Linked DNA regions of Homo sapiens. The protein of the gene in region 7 purifies or fractionates together with the protein of the main gene of each other region. This does not show direct contact. Each region holds a gene or a part of one and is shown on either strand. Other genes may lie near its edges. The genes, in order: STIP1, EIF3B, YBX1, PES1, FXR1, STAU1 and G3BP1.

Evidence for each region.
Region 1: the proteins of G3BP1 (region 7) and STIP1 purify together in Homo sapiens (affinity purification with mass spectrometry; 2 studies listed by BioGRID). This does not show direct contact.
Region 2: the proteins of G3BP1 (region 7) and EIF3B purify together in Homo sapiens (affinity purification with mass spectrometry; 2 studies listed by BioGRID and IntAct, with this or other methods). This does not show direct contact.
Region 3: the proteins of G3BP1 (region 7) and YBX1 purify together in Homo sapiens (affinity purification with mass spectrometry; 3 studies listed by BioGRID and IntAct, with this or other methods). This does not show direct contact.
Region 4: the proteins of G3BP1 (region 7) and PES1 purify together in Homo sapiens (affinity purification with mass spectrometry; 2 studies listed by BioGRID and IntAct, with this or other methods). This does not show direct contact.
Region 5: the proteins of G3BP1 (region 7) and FXR1 purify together in Homo sapiens (affinity purification with mass spectrometry; 3 studies listed by BioGRID and IntAct, with this or other methods). This does not show direct contact.
Region 6: the proteins of G3BP1 (region 7) and STAU1 purify together in Homo sapiens (affinity purification with mass spectrometry; 3 studies listed by BioGRID and IntAct, with this or other methods). This does not show direct contact.

What each region holds. Positions count from the first base shown.
Region 1 is NC_000011.10:64,189,171-64,192,670, forward strand, and holds part of STIP1 (stress-induced-phosphoprotein 1), read left to right. Parts: intron 1-3,500. UniProt on the Homo sapiens protein: Acts as a co-chaperone for HSP90AA1. Mediates the association of the molecular chaperones HSPA8/HSC70 and HSP90.
Region 2 is NC_000007.14:2,371,827-2,375,326, forward strand, and holds part of EIF3B (eukaryotic translation initiation factor 3 subunit B), read left to right. Parts: coding exon 1-23; intron 24-846; coding exon 847-969; intron 970-2,701; coding exon 2,702-2,780; intron 2,781-3,500.
Region 3 is NC_000001.11:42,692,418-42,695,917, forward strand, and holds part of YBX1 (Y-box-binding protein 1), read left to right. Parts: intron 1-1,072; coding exon 1,073-1,106; intron 1,107-3,500. UniProt on the Homo sapiens protein: DNA- and RNA-binding protein involved in various processes, such as translational repression, RNA stabilization, mRNA splicing, DNA repair and transcription regulation.
Region 4 is NC_000022.11:30,581,911-30,585,410, reverse strand, and holds part of PES1 (pescadillo homolog), read left to right. Parts: intron 1-693; coding exon 694-865; intron 866-956; coding exon 957-1,046; intron 1,047-3,500. UniProt on the Homo sapiens protein: Component of the PeBoW complex, which is required for maturation of 28S and 5.8S ribosomal RNAs and formation of the 60S ribosome.
Region 5 is NC_000003.12:180,919,170-180,922,669, reverse strand, and holds part of FXR1 (RNA-binding protein FXR1), read right to left. Parts: intron 1-3,500. UniProt on the Homo sapiens protein: mRNA-binding protein that acts as a regulator of mRNAs translation and/or stability, and which is required for various processes, such as neurogenesis, muscle development and spermatogenesis.
Region 6 is NC_000020.11:49,115,335-49,118,834, reverse strand, and holds part of STAU1 (double-stranded RNA-binding protein Staufen homolog 1), read left to right. Parts: intron 1-426; coding exon 427-502; intron 503-738; coding exon 739-1,058; intron 1,059-1,586; coding exon 1,587-1,709; intron 1,710-2,967; coding exon 2,968-3,053; intron 3,054-3,500. UniProt on the Homo sapiens protein: Binds double-stranded RNA (regardless of the sequence) and tubulin.
Region 7 is NC_000005.10:151,778,454-151,781,953, reverse strand, and holds part of G3BP1 (ras GTPase-activating protein-binding protein 1), read right to left. Parts: intron 1-3,500. UniProt on the Homo sapiens protein: Protein involved in various processes, such as stress granule formation and innate immunity. Plays an essential role in stress granule formation.

The DNA.
Region 1 (3,500 bases), on a different chromosome or scaffold from region 7:
GCCAATATGGTGAAACCCTGTCTCTATTAAAAATACAAAAATTAGCTGGATGTGGTGGCACGCGCCTGTAGTCCCGGCTACTTGGGAGGCTGAGGCAGGAGAATCGCTTGAACCCGGGAGGCGGACCTTGAAGTGAGCCGAGATTGCGCCACTGCACTCCAGACTGGGTAACAGCGAGACTCCGTCTCAAAAAAAAAAAATAAATAAATAAGCGGACATTGTGGTGCGCGCCTGTGGTCCCAGCTACGTGGGAGGCTGAGGCAGGACAATTGCTTGAACCTGGCTGGTCGAGGTTGCAGTGAGCCAAGATTGCGCCACTGCCCTCCAGCCTGAATGACAGCGAAACTGCATCTCCAAAAAAAAAAAGTTGGACAGATTTTGAATGTTCAGGCTTTTTTTTTTCAATAGGGGCCTTTCAAATCCCACAATGATACACTTCTTACATTTAACCCAACACAGGCGTACAGCCATGTAACACATTCAGCAAAACAGTATTTACTGTTATGTGCACTGTGTGCTGGTATTTTTTTGTCCCATTTGGTCTCTTAAAATGCTGGTCATGACCTACAAAATTGATTTCCTGACCCACTGTTGATCAGTACTCTGTTTGAAAAATGCTTTTCTAAAGCATAGGCAGGAACTTCACCAGCTGCCTCTTGACACCACTTGAGTTTTGTTAACTCTTCGTCTTCTGGCCTCCATCTTGGGCTCTAGGATTTTTTATCCCTTGTTTGCTTAATTTGGCAGGTTCCTTCTGCCCTTGCCTCTGTAAGGTCTCTGATTGATGGAAGTTCCTGATCTCTCTATTTGAGGATTCCAAAATCATTTCTCTCTTTTTTTTTTTTTTCCAAATAGAGTCTCACTCTGTCCTCCAGGTGAGAATGCAGTGGTGCAATCTCGGCTCACTGCAGCCTCCGACTCCCAGGTTCAGATGATTCTCCTGCCTCAGCCTGCTGAGTAGCTGGGACTACAGGCATGCACCACCACATCCGGGCAATTTATTTATTTATTTATTTTTTTGAGACTGAGTTTCGCTCTTGTTGCCCAGGCTGGAGTGCAATGACGCAATCTCAGCTTACTGCAACCTCCGCCTCCCAGGTTCTAGCAATTTTCCTGCCTCAGCCTCCCAAGTAGCTGGGATTACAGGCATGCACCACCACGCCCGGCTAATTTTTTTTGTATTTTTAGTAGAGACGGGGTTTCTCCATGTTGAGGCTGGTCTCGAACTCCTGACCTCAGGTGATCTGCCCACCTTGGCCTCCCAAAGTGCTGGGATTACAGGCGTGAGCCACTGCACCCGGCAGCAGCTAATTTTTGTATTTGTAGTAGAGACGGGGTTTCACCATGTTGGCCAGGCTGGTCTCGAACTCCTGACCTCAGTTAATCTACCCGCCTCAGCTTCCCAAAGTGCTGAGATTACAGCCTAAAATCATTTCTCTTGACAAAACTATTTCTTGCATCAATTTACTGGGTCGTGGGTGGATAATACATAGAATGAGTTAGTAACTTCGGTGACAACTCTATCTCACAGAACGTTTACCTCTTAAAAGTGTATTTTGGCCTGGTGTGGTGGTTCACCTTTGGGAGACTGAGGCAGGAGGGTTGCTTTAGGCCAAGAGTTTGAGACAAGCCTGGGCAATATGGTGAGACACCATTTCTACCACAAAAAGAAAAAAACATTTAGCCAGGCATGGTGACACACACTTGTAGTCCCAGCTACTTAAAAGGCTGAGTTGGCCGGGCGCAGTGGCTCATACCAGTAATCCCAGCACTTTGGGAGGCCAAGGCAGGCAGATCACCTGAGGCCAGGAGTTCAAGACCAGCCTGACCAACATGGAGAAACCCCGTCTCTACTAAAAATACAAAATTAGACGGATGTGGTAGTGCGTGTCTGTAATCCCAGCTACTCAGGAGGCTGAGGCAGGAGAATCGCTTGAACCTGGGAGGCAGAGGTTGTGGTGAGGCAAGATTGTGCTATTGCACTCCAGCCTGGGCAACCAGAGTGAAACTCTGTCTCAAAAAAAAAAAAAAAAAAGGGCTGAGTCAGGAGGATTGCTTGAGCCCAGGAGCTCAAGGTTACAGTCAGCTGTGATCATGCCACTGCACTCCAGGCTGGTAACAGAGTGAGATGCCATCTTTAAAAAAAAATAAATATGGCCAGGCGCGGTGGCTCACGCCTGTAATCCCAGCACTTTGGGAGGCTGAGATGGGTGGATTAAGAGGTCAGGAGTTCGAGACCAGCCTGGCCAACATGGTGAAACTCCATCTCTACTAAAAATACAAAAATTAGCTGGGCGTGGTGGCGGGTGACTGTAATCCCAGCTACTCAGGAGGCTGAGGCAGGAGAATCGCTTGAACCTAGGAGGCGGAGGTTGCCGTGAGGCAAGATTGTGCCACTACACTCCAGTCTGGGGACAGAGCAAGACTCTGTCTCAAAAAATAATAATAATAAATACAATGAGCTTCTCAAGGGGTTGCCTGCCCTCAGGTAGGCTGCTGTGGGGCACCTGACCTTTTGTGGGGCAGCTCAGTAAGGAGAAACCCTTTAGTGAGGACACTGTTCTGACAGGGCCAAGGCCTGCCTCACTTTTTTTTTTTTTTTAATGAAAAAGTAAAATTTAATGTGGAAAATGCAAACTTGGGGAGGGCAGAAAGATCACACACAAGGCTGTCACTTCACACTTGGAGGGTTGCACAGTGGCCCAACAGAGGCACACCTCACTTGCCAGACGGTGGGGCAGGTGGGCAGAGGTGCTCCTCTCTCCCCAGTCAGTTGGGTGGCCGGGCAGAGGCGCTCCTCACTTCCCAGTCGGTGGGGCGGCCAGGCAGAGCTGCCTCACTTTTTAAAACTGCTGTATCCCACCGGGCGCGGTGGCTCACACCTGTAATCCCAGCACTTTGGGAGGCCAAGGCGTGTGGATCACCTGAGGTCAGGAGTTTTAAGACCAGCCTGACCAATATGGTGAAACCCCGTCTCTACTAAAATTACAAAAATTAGCCAAGTGTGGGGGTGTGCGCCTGTAGTCCCAGCTACTTGGGAGGCTGAGGCAGGAGAATCGCTTGAACCTGGGAGGCGGAGGTTGCAGTGAGCCGAGATCGTGCCACTGCACTCCAGCCTGGGTGACAGAGTGAGACTCTGTCTCAAAAAACACAACAAAACAAAACCCCGCTGTATCCTTACTTCTTGCACTTTATATGTTTGAGAAGGGAGAGGTTTAAACCACAGTAGCATTTCTTCATCCTCCATCCCCTTTGTAATGTAATATTTAAGAATGGCAGGAATCAATTTGGGGAGCTAGCTTGACTGTTACCCATTAATGAACATTTATCTATCCTGTGGTGACATGTTGCCACACCAGGAAATGGAGACTGGTTCTTCCCTGATGGGAGGAGATGACAACTATGCCATAGGCAAGCATCTTGCCGCTCCCAAGAAAGAGAAGTCTCCGCTGCCATCCCACAGCCTTTGGGTCACTGGAGCATGTATCAGTGCCACTCCG
Region 2 (3,500 bases), on a different chromosome or scaffold from region 7:
TGTGGATGTGGTCGAGATGAAAGGCAAGTTGTATTTTAGTCACTTTGAGGCGAATGGGGCCTACGTGCTGTTTTACTCTTGGCTTTAACACTTCCATGCGAGGGGTTGTCTGAGCAGCTGAGTCAGGACTGTGAGCCCTCACCATGAATAGTCATCTCCAGGTCACAGAACGTGTTTAGAGCCTGGGCAACATAGTGAGACCCTCTCTGTACAAAAAACAAATAAAAAAAATTAGCCAGGTGTGGTGGTGCGCACCGATAGTCCCAGCTGTTTGAGACGCTGAAGCGGGAGGATCACTTGAGCCCAGGAGCAGAGGTTGCAGTGAACTGAGATTGCGCCCCTGCACTCCAGCCTGGGTGACGGAGCAAGACCCTGTCTAAAAAAAAGAGAAAAGAGATTGAGCCTGTGTTCTTGTTTGGCTTTTTGTTTTGCCATGGAGAAAAGGAGGAAGGAAGGGTTAAAAATAGGTGAGAAAATGGGAAACATGGCCGCCCTTCCAGGCAGGGAGACCGGAGGTCAGGATCCCACTGTAGGTGCACACTGGGTGCGAGGGAAGCGGCATCCACAGCTGCTGACAATGTCGGGCTCCTGCGGTCCTGCTGTGGGTGTCCTGCTCTCAGGAAGGGAGCAGTTTCACGTAGGTCACTCCACACAAGTGGAAGCAGCTGTCTCTGAAACTCCAGGAATGTGCACCTTTCCTGCTGTTGCTTGCTCTCCCGTCCTTTTAATGAACTTTTACACGTCGGGGGATATTTCTCTGTGGTTGAATAGTGAACATTTTAACTGATCAAGAGCACTATGTTCTGAATTGACCAAAAAGGGAGGGGTCTGTTTTGTGCATTTTAGAAACCATCATAGCCTTTGCCTGGGAACCAAATGGAAGTAAGTTTGCTGTGCTGCACGGAGAGGCTCCGCGGATATCTGTGTCTTTCTACCACGTCAAAAACAACGGGAAGATTGAACTCATCAGTAAGTAACCTGGTCCCTTTCCTCTTCTGAGTAGGTCAGCACAGATGATGACCCAGTCGCTGCCCAACAGTGAGCATTTGACTGGCCTAGGACCACTGCTGGGCAGGCCGGGACTCGCCTATGAATGGGGTGTGGCCTCGGCTGATGGAAGTGAGCGATGGCCTGGAGGTGCCGCCTCCTTGCAGGGTGTCTCTCTGAGCCCCGTTGAGCCCTCACGTTTAAGCGAGTATTTCCAAGGCTTCCATTCTCTGCCATCATCTCAAGTGAAGCTTTTTCTCTTCTGGCTGTAGCTGCTGTCCCTGGGCTTGGGGTCACTTCCTGTGGACATACTCCTGCCAGTCCCCAGTCTGGGTCAGGTGCCTTTGACCAGGGTGCGCAGAGCTGTTGCACACAGCTGTACTCTGCCCCCGTGCACCCGGTTCCAGGGGTGCCACACTGCACCCACCTGGGGCTCGCTCCTCACAGTGGTGCGTGGGCCCTCGCCTGTCTCACGGCACCTGCTGCCTGTGCCCTCAGCTCCTCACTTCATCCTGGGGTCTCTGCTCAGCACAGAGCCCGGTGCCCGCGGGGATTGAATGAGCCATTGCTTGTTGCTTCATAGGCGTGGGGTGTGTGTGTGTGGTAGCCAGGAGGTGGCGATGGGCTGTGTTCCTCACACAGGACTCTGGCTGCCAGCTGCCCTCCTGCAGAGCCATGGGTTTGGCTCTGTACCAGGAAGGGGTTGGAATCTCCTGGCCGCACCTTTCGCAGCATGATTCTGTGAGGAGTTTAGTTTTCACTTTGCTAGAGCTTGGCAGGGTGCGTGGTGCCCTCAGTTGGCAGTGGATTACAAGATTGGCTGTTTCATTAATTCTGGTTGATAGAAACATATGGGCAATTGCAGACTGTCCAGAGACTTGTGTAAGTCTTCTAGGTCATAAAACATAGGCAAGCAGAGGCACCTTGTACCTTCCAAACATGCTGCGTGACACGCCTCTCCTGAGGTTTGGCATGGACGCTGGGGCCACCGCATGGGCTCCATCCCATGCCCGTGGCTGTTGGGGTTTTCGCTTGTGCAAGTCTGAGACCCCTGCCCCTGCCAGGGTGCACTGCCCTCCCACATCTCCTCCCCTCCTCCCCACGTCAGCCTGCCCCATGCCTCTTTTTTGGATGTACCACAGGCTGAGGGGAGAGAGGCCACAGGTTGTCAGCTCTGTTTGAGATGCAGGGAGCATATGCTCTGAGGGGGACTTGAGCCAGCCCCAGCTGGCCTTCACTTCTCACTGTTCCAGCGGCTCTGCCCGAGATCCATTCCGGAAGTAAGAGTTAGTACCTGCAAAGATGATGACTGTAGTCAGTTTCAACAAGCATACAGCTTATCCAAAGACGCCTTGTCGCTAGGAGAGTGGCTTTGGTCTTTTGGGGTCACACGTCTCTGACATCTCTCTGTTGGGGTCCCTGCAGCAGTGAACATTTGCTGTAAAGGGAATTCTTTGTCCAGTTACCTCAGGAAATAAGATAGTATTGTTTTGAAATACCCCTGTCGCATCTTCTTTTTTTTCCCATTTAAAGTATGGATCATGACTTAGGGGGTACTTGGCGATGGACTTTGTAAAATTGTTTTCCGAGGTGGTCCAGCATTACCAGCTCTGCCCTCATGGGCAGCATGAGCACGGCCAAGTCCTCCAGCCTTGGCTGCCCCGGCACTGTGGAAGCCCTCGCAGCTCGTGACAGGCGCGCTCTTTCCTTTCAGAGATGTTCGACAAGCAGCAGGCGAACACCATCTTCTGGAGCCCCCAAGGACAGTTCGTGGTGTTGGCGGGCCTGAGGAGGTAGGTGTCTGCGCTCTGAGCCTGTCCGCCCTGTGAGTAGCGCTCTGCTGTGGCAGAGACCCCTCAGGCGCCTGCACCCGGCTTCTTGGTAGAGAGAGTATTGTGCGCTGAAAGGGTTGCCCCAGTGTCAGTGGATAGGACTTCATTGAACCTCTGCAGACCCACGGTACTCCAGGACTCAGGCCAAGCCCGCACAGAGTGAAATAAGCGCTCCCAGATGCTTTCGTGAAGTGACCAGGCAGACCTGTCTGCGGGTTGTGGTTCTCTGTGGTTAAACAAGTGCCTTCCAGCCATCCAGTAACCTCCCCCCGGGGGTCAGTCCCTTGTCTTCTAGTGGGAAGGGTATTCGTTACACAGCTGTGAGGCTGCCTTACCTTTGTGGTTGGTGTCACGGTGTCGGTCTCAGCTGTGTTCCAGCAGTGTGTCGAAATCATGGAGAAGCTTCCAGCTTTCTGCTCTGAGTTAAAAGAATACCCTTTTGTTGCTGCTCTCCCTTGCTTCATTGTCCACACTTGCTACTGTATTTTTGGAGGCTTACTTAGCCTCAGATAACATTTCCAGTAAAAATAATATGATGGCAGTCATATGTAATACTCACTGCACACTCTGCATCTGTGATTTGGTAAGTCTCACAGCGGCCACCAGAGGCTGTTGCTGTGCTTGTTTCCATGTTAACGCCGAGGCTGGCTCCCTGGGGACCCCATGCCGCAGCACCTCTCA
Region 3 (3,500 bases), on a different chromosome or scaffold from region 7:
CCTTAAGTCGCTTTTACAGTTTACCTGTTCTGTTTTTTTAATTATCCTGTTCCCATCAATTAAAAATGTTCTTATAATAATCCAAGCTATAATTTACAGGTCAGATTTAAAGTTAATTTTATGTGGATCCTTTGATGCATATGTTGCCCCCAGTTCAGCAAGAAGCTAACAGTCAGTAAGCCAGTTTGTCCAGTTCATTGTAACCTTTGTTCCCTTTGTCATTAAACGCTAGAGCTACTACTGAGCTTTTTCTCACTCTGACCTGACGGAGTAAAGAGGGTGAGGCAGGCCACTGCAGGCCTGGAAATCCGTTTCCTTCTCCAGTGGTGATTCTTGCTCCTCGTGTTATCACCTTAATCCCAATATCCAGGCTAAAAAGTGAGATTATTCTCTACCCCCTCGCTTCTGACATCCAGTCATCCACAAAGTTTCTCATTTTGCCTCAAAAAGAGATCTCAAATGTCTTTTTATACATGGCTCCGTGGTCTAAACCTTCATCAGTCCTTGTCTGGACTTGTGGAGTAGCTTTTATAACTGGGCTTTTCTTACATTCAAACATACCTTATCACCCAAAGGTCACAGTTCCCATTAGGTTTCACTCTTTGCGTTATACATTCTGTTGGTGGGGAGGGGGGTTCTCATTTTTATGATCTCAAGGAAAGTTGGTAGTTGGGAGATGCAGGATAAGGTGAGAATGTAACTACTACTTCTGTTGGTAACCATGCTCTAGAGGTAAGAGGAGGGTGTGCTAGAACAGTTAATGTTTAATAGGATAAGGAGGGGCAGAATATATTTTGCTAGTCATTGCTACCCTCTTAATTATGGCTCAGTAGGTCACACTTTAATTTCTTAGACTTTTTTTTTTTTTTGCCTATCTTACGGGTAATGAGGCTACAACTGTTTGCAACTGCTGAAGTCTTGAAAGCAGAGAGCATGGTGGCTTGTGTTTTTTGATTTTTGCCAAATTTCCTGGTACCTAATTGGCAGCCAGAGAGTCTCTGGGAAAATTAATCTTTGACAACATGAGATTTATTTCATTTTCTAACTTGTTCAACTTGGTTCTGTCTTGCAGGAATGACACCAAGGAAGATGTATTTGTACACCAGGTGAGTGCTTGTGTAGATATTTGCACTTCTGATTCAAGGATTGTAAGAAGAAAAGGTTAGATATGTTCTCAGCTTTTGTTCCTTATAAAAGGTTAAGTCCAACCACCAGTTTATTTACTTACGACAGGAGTAGTAGCATGCTTAAAAATGTATACGTGGAAATGTGTTAGAGTTGACTTAATTATCCTAGACATTTCAAATTGGAATTTTGTCAACAGCTGTGGCTTTCTCAAATGTTGAGTCAAACTCACTGCATTAAATATTTATACCTAATTTCAGATGAACAGATTATTCCATGATTCTAAAGTTGAACAAATAATGTTGCTATAAATACACAGAAACTTTGGCAAGAAGTTTTCAAAGGCTTTTAGGTGTACCTGTAGGGACAAATCTCCATAATCAAGGGTAAATAAGACAGACCTGCAAAACATAGTAATTGAAGTGAGTACTTGAAAAGTAGCATAAAGAGCCTTCTGCTTACTTTAAATCACTTTGAATGGGTATTGGGTTTTTTTTTTTTTTAAACCTTTGGAGAGTTTTGGCTGGCTTGGAAAATGAAAAAATTTCACTAGTTTAAGGTTAAGTGGGGGGAAGTGTGACAAGGTTGGCAGCTGCTCATTAAATAATTTTTAGATTGGCTTCCAGTGATTTGGGAAGAGAAAACTGTTAACATAGGATGAGTACTGATGAGTACTGCATAGTGAACTTTCTCCCTAAGTATCATTTAGGGAAAATGTTTGCACATTCAGGAATTAAGATTATTACTAATGTAAACCACTGCCAAGTGTATGTTAATACTTCAAATTTAGATATGCTGTAGGCTACATTGAATGTACTTATCCTCACAGATACGAAATGAGTAGGAAAAAATATGTTTGTGCTATCAGTTTTCTCACTAAGGCTTTTGAAATATTGTCAACTTGTATTAAAATTAGAGACCATAACTACTTTTTTGTACTATAATCCAGAAATCAAAAGACCTAAAAGTTAATATCCATACTCACATTTAATTAGATACTAGCTTTTATGGCAGCATGTTTCATAGGAAGGGCTGTCATAGGTTGGTGCTTTGTAGCTCACTGAAGTGTCCTACACAGTATTTGATGACAAGGAGGAAGCTATATCAATTTCTAGTACACCCAAACCCAATCAGGTAGTTCAGGGTCAAATGTAATTATGGAATCATTTAAATTCTAAATGTAAATAAATACAGGACTACTTCAGACAAAATGTTGTTTTAAAGTAGATGTTTTATAAAATTGGTATTCTTGTTTGGAAGAACACAGCTCAACTGTTCCTTACTCCCCTTCTGCATGTTCAAAAGAATGTGTAGACTTAGGAACAAGAGACAGCAAAGTTTCTCGGTCTTGTTGCCTGTTGGCAACCCTTAAGGGTTGGGGTTGGGGCAGGGGTGGAGATGTTGATAAAAATAAAGAGTTGGGATTTTAATTATCCATAATTCTGCTATCCCCTATGACTGCAGGTAATTGATAGTTGGCTATATCTGAAAGGTATGAAAACTATGTGACAGTTTAGATGACAGATGAGATCAATTATTTGACTCAACTCACCCAGTTGTACTGATTCACAAGGTGCCACCAATATGCTTTCATTTTTTTGGAAGTGGTTTCAACATGTAGTTGTTTCTTGGGACTTTGGCTGCTCAGGTCTTAGTGGTGTATCAGGGAGACTGCAGTTCTGGGCAGCTTCACTTAATTGGCCTCAGATTCGTTGATTGTCCTGTCTCCTCTGCAATGGAAATGCATGAGTGATCCTGTAATGGATATAGCTGAGATTTGGAGTGAACATGGGATTTGGAGACCCAATACCTGGGTTTAGAAAGTCTCCTTACTAACTGTGTGACCTTGGGCAAGTCACCTAACTTTAAAGCCTGTTACATTATCTGTGTAATGGGATTAACAATACTTTCACATGTCCTGTCTCATAATGAGATTGAATAGATAGTAAGTGAAAGAATGTTGCAAAAAAATTTCATAGAAACGTGAGATGTTACTCTTCCTCCCTTCTCTTAACAGTCTGGAGAAAGTAGAAGCAACAAGTCTCTAATACAAGATTTATTGAATTCTGGGGAGGTGATAACTAACAATTCCATGCAGTCAGATCATATAAAGAATGACATAGTTAATACACATGAATTGCATTTCCACTGATGTATTATCAGATTGGAAGGGATTTTGGTTGACATTTGTAATTGAGTTTGATACGGTAACACAGGGGCAAAGTTGGTTTGGTCAGCTTTGAAGCATGCAAAACCAAACTCGCCTGTCATCTAAACTGACGCAGTGTGGGGCCACCTTCTCCTATTAAGTGCAGTCCTCAGGGGATAGATGGATATCCTCATTTGTTAAAAGTTATATATAATGCTTTTGCAAA
Region 4 (3,500 bases), on a different chromosome or scaffold from region 7:
CCGTGTCTTCTCTGTGACCCATGCCTCTGTCCCTCAACAGGGCAGCCACACAGTGCCCAGGGTGGCTCATCCTTGTTGGCTTCGTCATTTACCAGAGGATTCCCCGAAACACATTCTGCTCTGGCTCTTCCTGGACCCAATTCCCTGGGTCTCATTGGTTCTGCCAACTAGACATGTCCAAGGGATGAGAGGCATGGAAGACATAACCTACGCTGGCGACCGGTGGCCAGGCCCAGTCATAAGTGCTGCTGAGGGGAAGCAGCCCCCACCCCGCTCCCTGCTCCACCAGGGCAGCTTCGGTTTCCCATTTTCCATTTTGGACCTCCCTGTAGAGTGTCTGTGCACTAAAGTTTCCACCTTCAAAGAGAGTCATAGAGCCCCTGACTCCGTCTACCGTCGTGCACCACAAAATCCGCACGTGGGTCAAGGCTGGGTCTTTGGTGAGCATTCGGTGTCTTGAGGACCCCCATCGGGACTTCTCTGGTCCTCAGAGCCTAGTGGGCGCATCCTGGTTAAGTGGTTCCTCCTAGGGGCTGTGGTCAGCTGTGGGGAAGCTGCTCCTGCCAGGTCAGGAGGTGGCAGTGGTGAGGCCTGGCTTGAGGAACGGGGCATCTGGGGTGGGATAAGGAGATCAGGGTCCCCCTTGGCACCCACGCTGAACAGGCCCCATGTGCTGCCTCACTGGCCATGCAGGTATCCCACGTTCATCGATGCCCTGCGGGACCTGGACGATGCCCTCTCCATGTGCTTCCTGTTTTCCACCTTCCCGCGGACTGGCAAGTGCCACGTGCAGACCATTCAGCTGTGCCGCCGGCTCACTGTGGAGTTCATGCACTACATTATCGCTGCCCGTGCCCTGCGCAAGGTGAGCCTGGGACTGCCCGGCTGGCATCCCACCCTGCCCCCTCTCCTGCCACCCCATGGTCTTCACCCAGATGTCTCCTCCTCTCCCCTAGGTCTTCCTGTCCATCAAAGGCATTTACTACCAGGCCGAGGTACTGGGGCAGCCCATCGTGTGGATCACTCCCTATGCCTTCTCCCATGACGTGAGTGTGCCTGTCGGGAGGGGACGGGCTTGTGCTGCCTCCTAGACAGATATGGATGTGGAGGAAGGGGGATTTTGCTGTCCATGGAGTTTAGCAAGTGCTGGGTTCCCAACTGTTGATGAGGGGTGAGGCGCGGCAGAATGTGCCACACAGCATCCTCATTAAGAGCGGGAGCCTAAGCTAGCCCTATGGCAGCACCTGCCAGCTGCGTGCCCTTGGACGTGTTCCTTTCACCTCTCTGTGCCTCAGTTAACAGTGTCTACACCCTTAACAGTGCCTGGTGCTTGGCCTTTTAGGGCCGAATAAACAGTGAGAACAGCTATCAGGGCCATACCCAGCCTGCATGCCCAGCACCATGTGGTGCCACCACGGGGACAGTGGCAGAGCCCTGCCCTCGAACCTACTGGGCTCCTCGTCCCTGCTTTGCTGCCGATAGCTGCCAGACCTTGGCCAAGTGGCCTTGCCTCCCTTCTCTGCTTCCCCCTTCCTGCCTCTCTGCCCCACAGGACTCGGGGACTGGGAGAGAAGGGGAACGGTGAGCACAGGAGAAGCACTTAGCATGTGGCACTGTTTCCTACATATATTGTTTTCTTTTTCTTTTAAAATAGAGATAGGGTCTCACTATATTACCCAGACTGGTCTGGAACTCCTGAGCTCAAGCAGTCCTCCAATCTCAGCCTCCCAAAGTGCTAGGATTATAGGCGTGAGCCACAGAGCCCAGCCTTTTTCTTTATCTCTTTGAAATCCTGGGAATTGTTGGCAGGGATCCACTGAGAGAAACCCTGGTTTTGCCCTCTCATGGAGCTTCTAGTGCCCCGCAGGTGGGCCAGGCTCTCCTGCCTCCCTGTGCTGGTGGCCTGCATTTAGCCCACCTTGCTTGATCATTGAGTGGGAACTGGTGCCTTCAGCGGAGAGCAGCCGCTGCCGGTCCAGTTAGCACAGTGGCTCTGCTGCCCAGATTATCAGGGGCTCCAGGGGGAGCTGGGACTCTAGGTGCCCTGGGCTGTTACTTATGATCCCTTGTGGGTGGGGTTGCAAGGACTGGAACCTACCCTGACTGGCTGTCTGGTGGTGAGGCTGTGGCCTGTTTGCGAGTGAGAGGCGGGCTTGGCCCTCAGCAGTCCCTGTTCCCTCTCCCCCTGGGGCACGTGTGGGTGGCCCTTCCTTCTTCCCTTCCCCAGCCCTCCTCTCCTCCTCCTTCCTTCCTGCCTTCCTCTTGGTCCTTCCTTCTCTCTGATGTCCTGCCCCCATGCTGCTCAGACTGGTCTTTGTGTGTCCTCCCTGGTGGTGAATAGGGCCCTGTGGTGGGCCGGCCTCCACACAGCTGGCCCTGGGGGAAGGGAGCCAGCCACGCATTCCCCTTTCCTCCTTGGCCAGTTCACTGCCGTTGCTTCCTCTCAGCGGATGGGGAGGACTGGCACTAGGTCGTAGCGGAGCCCAGTTGTGCCCCTCCTGTGAGCAGCCAGGGTTGGGTTCATAGCTGTGGAACTCAGGCTGGTTGTAGGGGCGGGGTCTCCCTGCTCAGTGCTGGGCTGTGGGAAATGGGGTTGGTCCCCAGATGTGCCTGTCAGGGGCCCTCACAGATTCTCATGGAAGGATGGCGGTGTGAGTGAGGGAACAGGCAGGGCTTCTCTTGGCCCTATGTGCTCTCACAGCACAGGTCACTGTCTGGCAGCAGAATAGCGGAACAGCTAAGAGTCATGGGCACACCCGGCACCCATGGTGATCACTACTGATTTTCACGTTGCTCGGAACATCCTGCCGCGTCCTGGGGGCCAAATGGGCTGGCTCGGCCTCCATGGTTTTAGGGGGCAGAACTGCTCAAGAGTTGTGATTCTGTCTGGGCCTCAGTTCTTTGCCCTGTTTTGCCCTATTAACTGCTCCAGGGCAAAGATGAGCCTTCTGTGTCCCCTGCTGCTGGGATGACAGCTCTGTGCCTTTTCCCTGAGCAAAAAGTAGTTTTGTCTGCTGGCCATTTCCCAAGAGCTCCCTGGGGGCTGAGCCAGGCCAGCTGCCAGCCTACCCTGGCCCCTCGGGTCATGCCTCTGGACCTGGCTTGGGCCCAAGGAGGGAGTCACTCAATTCTGAGTGTCCATCCCAAGGTTCAGAGGTGGGACTCAGTGGGCGGCCTGAGCCCCATGCTTCCCCCGCCCCCGCTGGGCCTGGCCTTCCCAAGGCACCTTAGTCAGCCAAGGTTTTGCCAGCCCCTCTGGGCTAGAGACAGCGCTGGGAGCACCACCCTCTGGTGCTCACACGCTAGCCCAGCAGCAGACATGCAGCAAAGATTGTAGACTAGGTGATGTAGAAGGCAGGAGCTCTGGCCAGGTCGGAAAGTGGTCTGTCCGAGTCTGAGCTAGACCTGAAGGAAGTGGGAGAGCCGGAGCAGGGAGGGGAGGGCCAGCCAGTCTTCGGAGCAGCAGGGACCAGGGTCCCTTTTCTCACTCTTTTATGGGG
Region 5 (3,500 bases), on a different chromosome or scaffold from region 7:
CTGCACTGCAACCTGGGTGACACAGTATTATTTATTTTGAGATCCTATCTCAAAATTAATAACCTAAATAAATAGGTGGGAGAGTGGACACTCTTACATCAGGTCAGAGGCTTAATATCCATAATACAGAAAGATTTTCAAAACTGACAAAGGACACCCCAACAAAAAAATGGGCAAAAGACAGGCAATTCTTAGAAAAACAAAATCAAATGGCAAACAAAGGCAAGTCTTAAAAGAACAAGTTCAAATGGCAAACAACATTAAAATTCACAACTGGGATCAAGTTCCAATGAGATATCCCTTTACATCCAACAGACTGGCAAAAATTAAAGATCATAAAGCCAACTTCTGGCCCAGATAAAAAGAAAAAGCTGCCATTTATTATTGATGGAGAACACAGGAAGCATCAGAAGCCTTTTTGGAAAGCAATCTTTCAACATTTATTACAGTTTTTTGTTTTTTTAAAGGTTCCCTTTCACCAAGCTATCCCATTCTTTGATATCTATCCAATGGAAATAGTTATGTGGAGCGACAAAAAACTGAAAACAAAGTGTATGTCTATTAACTGGGGAATGGCTGAATTTAATACATTGTTATGATTATATAACCTTAAAAAATAAATCATACTCCACATGAAAATAGTTAAGATGTGGATGATCCTATTTTTATACAGTAATACTGAAAAACCCTATACTTGTAACTGAATGCGTACCTATATACAATTCTACGAGCATAGTGAAATATATGGAACCACGTATATGTGCTACAAACAAAGGTTACCTAATATGGAGGCGGAGGTGAGAGACCCAGGTGGTGAAGAGCAACCAGGGGAAAAAAAAATACAACAGACTAAGTTTTTATATCATACTTACGTGTGTGTAAAATTATACACGTGTCTATGTAAACGTATACTTTTAAGAATTAGAATATATCTTATTGTCAGCCAACACGTTTTCCATACAGCACGTATGTGCATCACCACTCCCCACTTCTAATTTTTCCATCTCTAGGGATCTCAAATTTATAAGATATAAACTTATAAGATGCTTACCACAACTAAAAGATCTAAGTTGTAATTTGATTCCAACAAGTACCAAATAGTCAAGGCTGCTACTGCAATCAAAAAAATGTCTTAACTTCAAACAATATACTTTTTAAAAAGATCTACGCAACTAAATCTACAAAGTAAAATTATTCCAAATCACTAGATACTTGTTCCACAAATTCAAAAAGTCTGCAAATTTACCAATTACATTATACATTACAATAATTATTACAAGTTTTTTTTTTTTTTTTTAGATGGAGTTTCTGTTGCCCAGGCTGGAGTGCAGTGGCGTGATCTTGGCTCACTGCAACCTCCACACACACCCCCACCCTGGGTTCAAGGGATTCTCCTGCCTCAGCCTCCAGAATAGCTGGGATTACAGGCACCAGCCACCATGCCCTGCTAATTTTTGTGTTTTTAGTGGAGATGGTTTCACCATGTTGGCCGGGCTGGTCTCGAACTCCTGCCCTCAAGTGATCCACCCGCCTCAGCCTCCCAAAGTGCTGGGATTACAGTCAAGAGCCAGCACGCCCAGCCAATTATGGAGTAAGCTCTAATAAGAAAAAAAAATTATTCAAGGCAAGCATTCAGCATTCATTAGTATTGAGCATGTAACTGTTCTGAGTTTGAAAAAAGAAAAAGGACAATGAGGATGTGAAGATTTCTTTAAGAATACACAAGTGTCTACTACTACTGTTTACATACCAGTAATGTTCTTGGCTTGTTAGGTTCACCCATTTGTATGTATTATCTAACAGTTCTCTTTGAAATGGAATAAGTTAACAGTTCCAAATGGCCACCCAAAACTATTCTGGGCCGGGCATGGTGGCTCACACCTGTAATCCTAGCACTTTGGGAGGCTGAGGCAGGCAGATCACCTGAGATCAGGAGCTCAAGGTCAGCCTAGTCAACACGGCAAATCGCCATCTCTACTAAAAATACAAAATTAGCCGGGCGTGGTGGTGCATGGCTGTAATCTCAGCTACAATAATTACTGAGGCACAAGAATCGCCTGAACCTAAGAGGCAGAGGTTGCAGTGAGCCAAGATTGTGCCACTGCACTCCAACCTGGGCAACAGAGCTAGACTCAAAAAAAAAAAAAAAAAAGAACAAAACTATTCTGACTTTCTCGTTGCAGAGTTTAAGTTCTATACAGTTCCCTCTATGCATGCATAAAGTTTTGTGACAATATCTGAACTTGACCAAGATCAAAACATAACTTCTTTAAAAAAATCATTTAAATTCAGTTTGAACCAAAATCAGAAATGATGAAGTTAGCAGTTACTAAGATTACACATCATTCAACAAATATACACTGAGGGCTTACTATGAACTAAGTACATATATCAACAAAATTTAAGACTTGAAAATAACCTGAAAAACTGTAAAAACAAAAAGGTTACATGAAAAGGGAACCAAAAACAGCTACCTATGATTAATTATGTAGATTAAGAAAGGAATTCAGGAGCCTCTGAGGCTCCTGATCTGAAGAAATCTCAACACGGGAGCGCATCCCTTTGCCAACAATAATAAACTTCATCAGCTATTTTACTAATGGAGACCTCTGTTCATCTTCCCAAAATAGACAGCAAAAAACGCTGAAGATAGAGAATGGCAGGCAAGTTAAATACACTGATAGCATAAATTATCTTGATTAAAAGAAGGAGGTAGTGGCTCATGCCTGTAATCCCAGCACTTTGGGAGGCTGAGGCAGGAAGATCATAAGGTCAGCAGTTTGGGACCAGCCTGGCCAATATGGTGAAACCCCATCTCTAATACAAAAATCAGCCGGGCGTGGTGGCTGGCACCTTTAGTCCCAGCTATTCAGGAGGCTGAGACGGGAGAATTGCTTGAACCCGGGAGGCAGAGGTTGCAGTGAGCTGAGATTGCGCCACTGCACTCCAGTCTGGGCAACAGAGCAAGACTCCATCTCAAAATAAAACAAAATGCATGAAAAGAAATAGATAATATTAATTTCAATATTATTTAACCTAATATACCTAAAATATTATCCAACATGTAATCAATGTAAAAAATTATTGGCCCGGCGCAGTGGCTCACGCCTGTAATCCCAGCACTTTGGGAGGCTGAGCCAGGTGGAACATTTGAGGTTAGGAGTTCGAAACCAGCCGGCCAACATGGTGAAACCCTGTCTCTACTAAAAATACAAAAATTGCCTGGGCGTGGAGGCACACAGCTATAATCCCAGCTACTCGGGTGGCTCAGGCATGAGAATCACGTGAACCCAGGAGGCGGAAGTTGCAATGACCCGAGATAGTGCCACTGCACTCCAGCCTGGGCAACAGAGCAAGACTCTGGCTCAAAAAAAAAAAAAACAAAAATAAAAAAAAAATAAAATTTAGGTGTTTCACATTTTTTTTTAATTCTAAGGCTTTGAAACCCAATTTGTATTTTACATTTAAAGCATGTCTCAATTCAGACTAGTACATTTCAG
Region 6 (3,500 bases), on a different chromosome or scaffold from region 7:
AATGTCACCTTATTTTTTAATTGGATATCAGCTCCAGGAAATATTCTTGATTTATTTGTTTAGCTTCAGTCTGAAAGCTTCTTTCCCCACCTTGGTGGGCTCTACCGTCTAGCATCTCTGCTCTTTCTGGTTAAATGCTTCCCGTCTTCCTGTGGGTGCAGAGTGCAGCTCAGCATTCACAGGTTAGTGCACTTTGTTAGATGCTCTTTGTGGGCAGGGGTGTGGGCAGGAGGGTGCATTAGGAGAAGGAGGCAGGCTCTGCCCAGGTGTCTGTCAGGGTGCCAGTGGTCAGGTGGGGCAGGGTTTTTCTGCCGATTGCCACAGTTATTGCTGACTGGACTTTGTGTAGATTTAGACAGCAGGAGCTAATTTTTCAGTGATCTGATTTATGCTCATGGCCTTTTTTTTTTCTTCTTCTTTTTTAAGACACCCATAAAGAAACCAGGGGATGGAAGAAAAGTAACCTTTTTTGAACCTGGCTCTGGGGATGAAAATGGGACTAGTAAGTGTGATCTTAATATCGTCTTCCTCTGAACGTGATTCTGGGATTTGCATGGGTCCTGAATAACAGCAGGAGCCCAGCCAGTGAGGTCCCGCATGCAAAGTGTCTTTATCATTCCCTGATTCCCTGCGCTGCCATGCGTGCCAAGGGGAGGGCCAGCGTGGGGTTTGATGGTGTCATTGCGTTTTTCCAGGCTGTGGATGTGGATTCGTGTTTACCGTGTATGTCCCTCCCAGGTAATAAAGAGGATGAGTTCAGGATGCCTTATCTAAGTCATCAGCAGCTGCCTGCTGGAATTCTTCCCATGGTGCCCGAGGTCGCCCAGGCTGTAGGAGTTAGTCAAGGACATCACACCAAAGATTTTACCAGGGCAGCTCCGAATCCTGCCAAGGCCACGGTAACTGCCATGATAGCCCGAGAGTTGTTGTATGGGGGCACCTCGCCCACAGCCGAGACCATTTTAAAGAATAACATCTCTTCAGGCCACGTACCCCATGGACCTCTCACGAGACCCTCTGAGCAACTGGACTATCTTTCCAGAGTCCAGGGATTCCAGGTAACTGTCTGGCCTGAGCTGTGATGGCTGTGCCTCAGGACAGTCATCTTTTGGCTTCTCTCAGAAAATGAACTTTGAACTTTGTACTTTTTTCTTAAATCAAGTTCTGTCCAGGGATGGGCTGGGGAGCAGTGATGGAAGGGTAGGAGGTATAGAAGTATTGTAAGCATATGTGGTAAGAGAAATATCTTTATCCTTTGGTAGTAAGATTTCAACATGCAAGCCAACCCTAAAAGCTTCTAACCACTAGCAGTGGTTGTAAATTTGGATTTCAAAGAACAGACTCATCGTGCTGACACTTTCTGTCTGGTAGGAAAGGATATGGCTTCTCCCAGTCTTGGGCTTCTGAGCAGACACCTAGGTTCCTGGAAGGTTCTGGGCTGACAGGGCAGGTGTTAGTATGGCCACAGTGGGGCTGAGTTGGAAAAAAGAGCTGGTGATCTTGCTTGTGGGGCCTGGAGCTGCAGCCCTCCAGCCCACTCATACTTGCTGTTCCCTACCTAGCCTCAGCTCTCTTTTCCCCCTTAGGTTGAATACAAAGACTTCCCCAAAAACAACAAGAACGAATTTGTATCTCTTATCAATTGCTCCTCTCAGCCACCTCTGATCAGCCATGGTATCGGCAAGGATGTGGAGTCCTGCCATGATATGGTACGTCACACCTTGGGTGAGGGATTGGGGTGTTGTGTGTTTATGTGGAGCCTGCCTTGGTTCAGCTTGTTACTAGCCTGAGGAAGATGGGAGAAAGATTGTCCCATAGACCTTGAGAGCAATGAATCGTTTGATAGTGTTCATATTTTTGAAGACTTTTTGTCATAGCTGATTGGATCGATTTCTCACTCTTGATCAGAACTCATCAGCTTTAGCCCACCTTTCCCTTCCTTTTCCCTGCTGGCCTGGAGGGGCAACTGGGATCCTGCAGCTCACCCAGAGACTGCACTCACTTCATCTCTCACCAGAACAAGGAATTGCAGGTCCACGTTCTGGCAGCTGTAAAAACCACTTGCTTTGGTCTTCTGTTCAGATGAAATTATTGTTATAAGAAAACTGAGAAAAGGAATTGATCAGATCAACAAATCTAAGTAAACTGTGATGTATTCACTTGATGGGATGTCATGCATGCATGAAATTAATGTCTCTGGGTGGGGTGTGGTGGCTCACACTAATCCCAGCACTGCGGGAGGCTGAGGCAGGCGGATCACCTGAGCTCAGGAGTTCAAGACCAGCCTGGCCAACGTGGTGAAACCCCATCTCTACTAAAAATACAAAAAAAAATTAGCCAGGTGTGGTGGTGGGTGCCTGTAATCCCAGCTACTTGGGAGGCCAAGGCAGGAGAATCGCTTGAACCCGGGAGGTGGAGGTTGCAGTGAGCCAAGATTGCACTACTGCACTCCAGCCTGGGCAGCTGGGTGAGACTGCGTTTCAAAACAAAACAGTGTCTCCGAAGATAATGTAATAAGAAGAAAAATACATGATAGGCCGGGTGTGGAGGCTCACACCTGTAATTCCAGCACTTTGGGAGGCCAAGGTGGAAGGATCGCTTGAGCCTAGGAGTTTGAGACCAGCCTGGGCAACTTAGTGAGACCCTGTCTCTATAGAAAGAAAAATACATGATAGATTTTTGTTAGAAAGCAGGATATAACATTTATACAGTCTGGTTACCACATGGTTAAAAATACTAGAAGGAAAAATATAACATTTTCAGAGGTTATGATTCAGTGAGGTAACTGAATATTTTTTAATTTGTATTTTAAATTAAAAATTCAAAGTTTTATTTAGTAGTACCAGAGTTGAAGAAGTTGCCACCTGTTTGCTGGGCAGCAGGAACTCTCTTGCCTGCCTGACCAGTGTATTATGCTGTGGTCCCAAGCGGTGGCTGTGGCTTTACCCTTCTTTCCATCCCCACTAGGCTGCGCTGAACATCTTAAAGTTGCTGTCTGAGTTGGACCAACAAAGTACAGAGATGCCAAGAACAGGAAACGGACCAATGTCTGTGTGAGTGCACTGATGAAGGGGAAGGCGCTGATGATGGGGAGGCTGCCCCTCGTTTGTGTTGAGTTTACACTATCTGCTGACTCAGCGGGGAAATATTTGCCTGAGTTACTTTCTGGCCCTTTTGCCTGAAAGTTTTCCAGATTCTCTGGGCAGAAAGCTCTACTTTTAAAAGACATTTTGAGGCTGGGAACAGCGGCTCACACCTGTAATCCCAGCACTTTGGGTGGCCAAGGCAGGTGGATCATGAGGTGTCAGGTGTTTAAGACCAGCCTGGCCAAGATGGTGAAACCCTGTCTCTACTAAAAATACAAAAATTAGCCAGGTGTGGTGGCAGGCACCTGTAATCCCAGCTACTTGGGAGGCCGAGGCAGAGAACTGCTTAAAACCTGGGAGGCGGAGGTTGCAGTGAGCCGACATAGCGCCACTGCACTCCAGCCTGGGCGACAG
Region 7 (3,500 bases):
GAACTACAGTTGAGCCTTCAACAAGGTGAGAATTAGGGGCATGGATAGCCCAGAGTTGAAAATCTGTGTATAACTTGACTCCTCAAAATTTTAACTACTAATAGCACACTGGTGATCAGAAGCTTTACCAATAATATAACCAATCATTTAACTATTTGTAGGTTATATACTGTATTCTTACAATAAAGCTAAAGAAAATAAGAAAATCATTTGCAAAATACATTTTCAGTATTGTATATGTTTATGCTGTCTGTTTAAAAGACAAATCGTCTCTCTGAAATGACAGGTAACCACAGCTGCACACCTCAACCTATGGTACAGATCAAGCAATTTAATATTTCCTTGTAATGTCATAACTTTTCTGTTTCTTGGGAGTGCTTTCAGCATCATTAGTGATATTTCGTATGGGTCCCATGGTGTTATTCAAGGCTTTCAGTATTGTACTAAACATGATGAAAACTACTCATTGAAGAGAAATCACTTTTTACTGCATCCAAATTTACTGGAGAGAAGAACTGCTCACATAAAGATGATTAGCATCACACAGTGTTGTAAGCAGATACTTGCAACACAAGCACATTGCAATATTTACAGGAGGTGGCTAGGAAAAAAATTATAGTACAGTATATACTAAAGTTCATTTTATGCAGTTATAACTTAATACTGTATCTTTACATTTGTTTACATTTCTCTTGACTGCAAATGGTGCCCTGAATGGTCTCAAAGTGTTTGTGTGGGTTCATTTTGATAAATTTTAACTCTGTAATAAATCTGTAATAGACTTGTGTATATTTTACAGTAGTAAATAACAGTATCCACATATATTTTATGCATTCATGAAATACCTTTTTCTTAATTTTTTTTATTATTTCTAGGCTATTCAGTTTGTGAGCTTTTTCAAATTGTTACAAATCTCCAAAAAAAATTTTCCAATATATTCATTGAAAAAAATCTGCTCAAGTGGACCTGAGCAGTTCATACCCACGTTTGTTCATGGTTCAACTGTACTACATTAACTTTCAAATTTTCCACTTGATCCCAAGTTTCCAGATTGCAAAGCAACTTCAAAGAAACTCCCCATCAATAATTGTGCTGAAGTTAACAGAAAAATGTTAAGGGTCTAAAGAACTATGAGCATTATCAGCCAGGCGCGGTGGCTCACACCTGTAATCCCAGCACTTTAGGAAGCCAAGGTGGGCGATCATGAGGCCAGGAGATAGAGACCATCCTGGCTAATGCGGTAAAACCCCGTCTCTACTAAAAATACAAAAAAACTGGCCAGGCATGGTGGTGGGCGCCTGTAGTCCCAGCAACTCAGGAGGCTGAGGCAGGAGAACAGAGTGAACCCGGGAGGCGGAGCTCTTGCAATGAGCCAAGATCGCACCACCGCACTCCAGCCTAGGCGAATGAGCAAGACTCCATCAGCTAGCGGCGGAGGGGGAAATAACTATGAGCATTATCCTCCAATTTTTAACAGACGGGCAGGGAAACATAAAGGCAGCCCATACTCCACCTGCATTTTTAATGGCAAAGCTCACTCCAACAAAATAAAAAGTAGCCAAATGCCTTCATAGCCCATTTTCAGTGCCAGTTTTATAGTAAGAAAATATAATATCATATAATAAAAGATTAGTAGAATGTATATAAACCTGCATACAAATCACTAAAAGAGTAACCCAAGAGAAAAACAGGCAAATGAAATGGAGCAGCCAATTCTCAGGAAAGTACTAAATGGACAGCAAACAAAACAGAGTAAGTAACCAGGAAAATGCAATTAATAAAATCACTTCTCACAGGAGATACCTTACAAGAGATGCGCCAAAGTATTAAAATCTCAGTCAACACCAAACATTGGCAACCAAGTAAAAAAAAGAGCCTACAGGACTGCTGAAGATGAAGTCTCAACTGGTACAACCACAGTGGAGAACAATTTTGCACTATCTAATAAAATCAAAAACACTCTGATGAAAATCTAGCAGTTCTCTTCTAGGTACATATACAAAAGAAACTCACCCAAGACAAAACAAACTCACACAAGACAAAAACAAATAACTGCCACCCTATCTGTAAAGTATAACATTGATAACAATCTACATGTCCATCAAATAAGGAATGGATATTAAGTTGTGGTTTATTCACATTAGGGAAACTTCTATACCTAAGACAACCATATGAGAGCACTTTTAAGATTGAAAACAACTACTATTAATAGTGTCAGGTTAACTGAAGTGAATCAGGACTGTCCCTGGCAAACCAAGACATATGTCACCCTATTTATGCCTGCCAGAAAGCGAGCACATAACTCAAAAACATTATTAAAAAGAAAAATCAGTTGCCAAATATGTACTGTGTGATAACGTTACATATATTTAAAAGTGTTTTTAGTATACACAAATACCAGATACCGTACATAGATACACAGGCTAGACATAAAGAGACAAATGGATCCATGAAACAGAATGGAGTTCACTAACATATCCACATGGACAACTATATTTCCAAGAAAAGTGCAAAGACAATTCAGTGGAAAAAGTATACTCTCTTCAACAACTGGTACTGAAACAATTAGATATCATATGGAAAAAACAAAAAAAAACCAGAACCTCAATTCATGTCTCACACCACATACAAAATTTAACTCAAAATGATTCAGTGTAATCAAAGTGTAAAACCCAAAACTGAACTTCTAAAGAAAACTTGCATGACACTAAGCAAAGATTTTAGACACACCAAAAGCAAATGAAGAAGAAAGCGAATTGATCACGTAGACTGCCTCAAAATTAAAACCATCTGCCCTGCAAAGACACCATCAAAAGAATGAAAAGGCACGCAGGCAAGCCACAGATTAGGAGTAAATATTTGCAAGGCATTTACCTGATTGATTGACTGACTGATTTTTTTTTTTTTAGAAGGAATCTTCCACTGTCGCCCAGGCTGGAGTGCAGTGGCGCTCACCGCAACCTCCACCTCCCAGGTTCAAGCAATTCTCATGCCTCAGTTTCTCAAGCAGCTGGGATTACAAGCACACACCACCACGCCCGACTAATTTTTGTATTTTTAGTAGAGATGAGGGTTCACCATGTTGCCCAGGCTGGTCTCGAACCCCTGGCCTCAAGTGATCCACCTGCCTCGGCCTCCCAAAGTGCTGGGATTACAGGTGTGAGCCACTGCGCCTGACCCATATCTCTAATTTTTAAAATACCTCTATCCAGAATATATAAAGTACTCTCATGCCTGTAATCCCAGCACTTTGGGAGGCCGAGGAGGGCATATCACCCGAAGTCAGTAGTTCGAGACTAGCTTGGCCAACATGGTGAAACCCCATCTCTACTAAAAATACAAAAATTAGCCGGGTGTGGTGGTGGATACCTGTAATCCCAGCTACTCAGGAGGCTGAGACAGGAGAATCACCTAAACCCAGGAGGCAGAGGTTGTAGTGAGCAGAGATGGCGCCACTGCACTCCAGCCCGGGCAACAAGAGCGAAACACTGTCTCAAAAC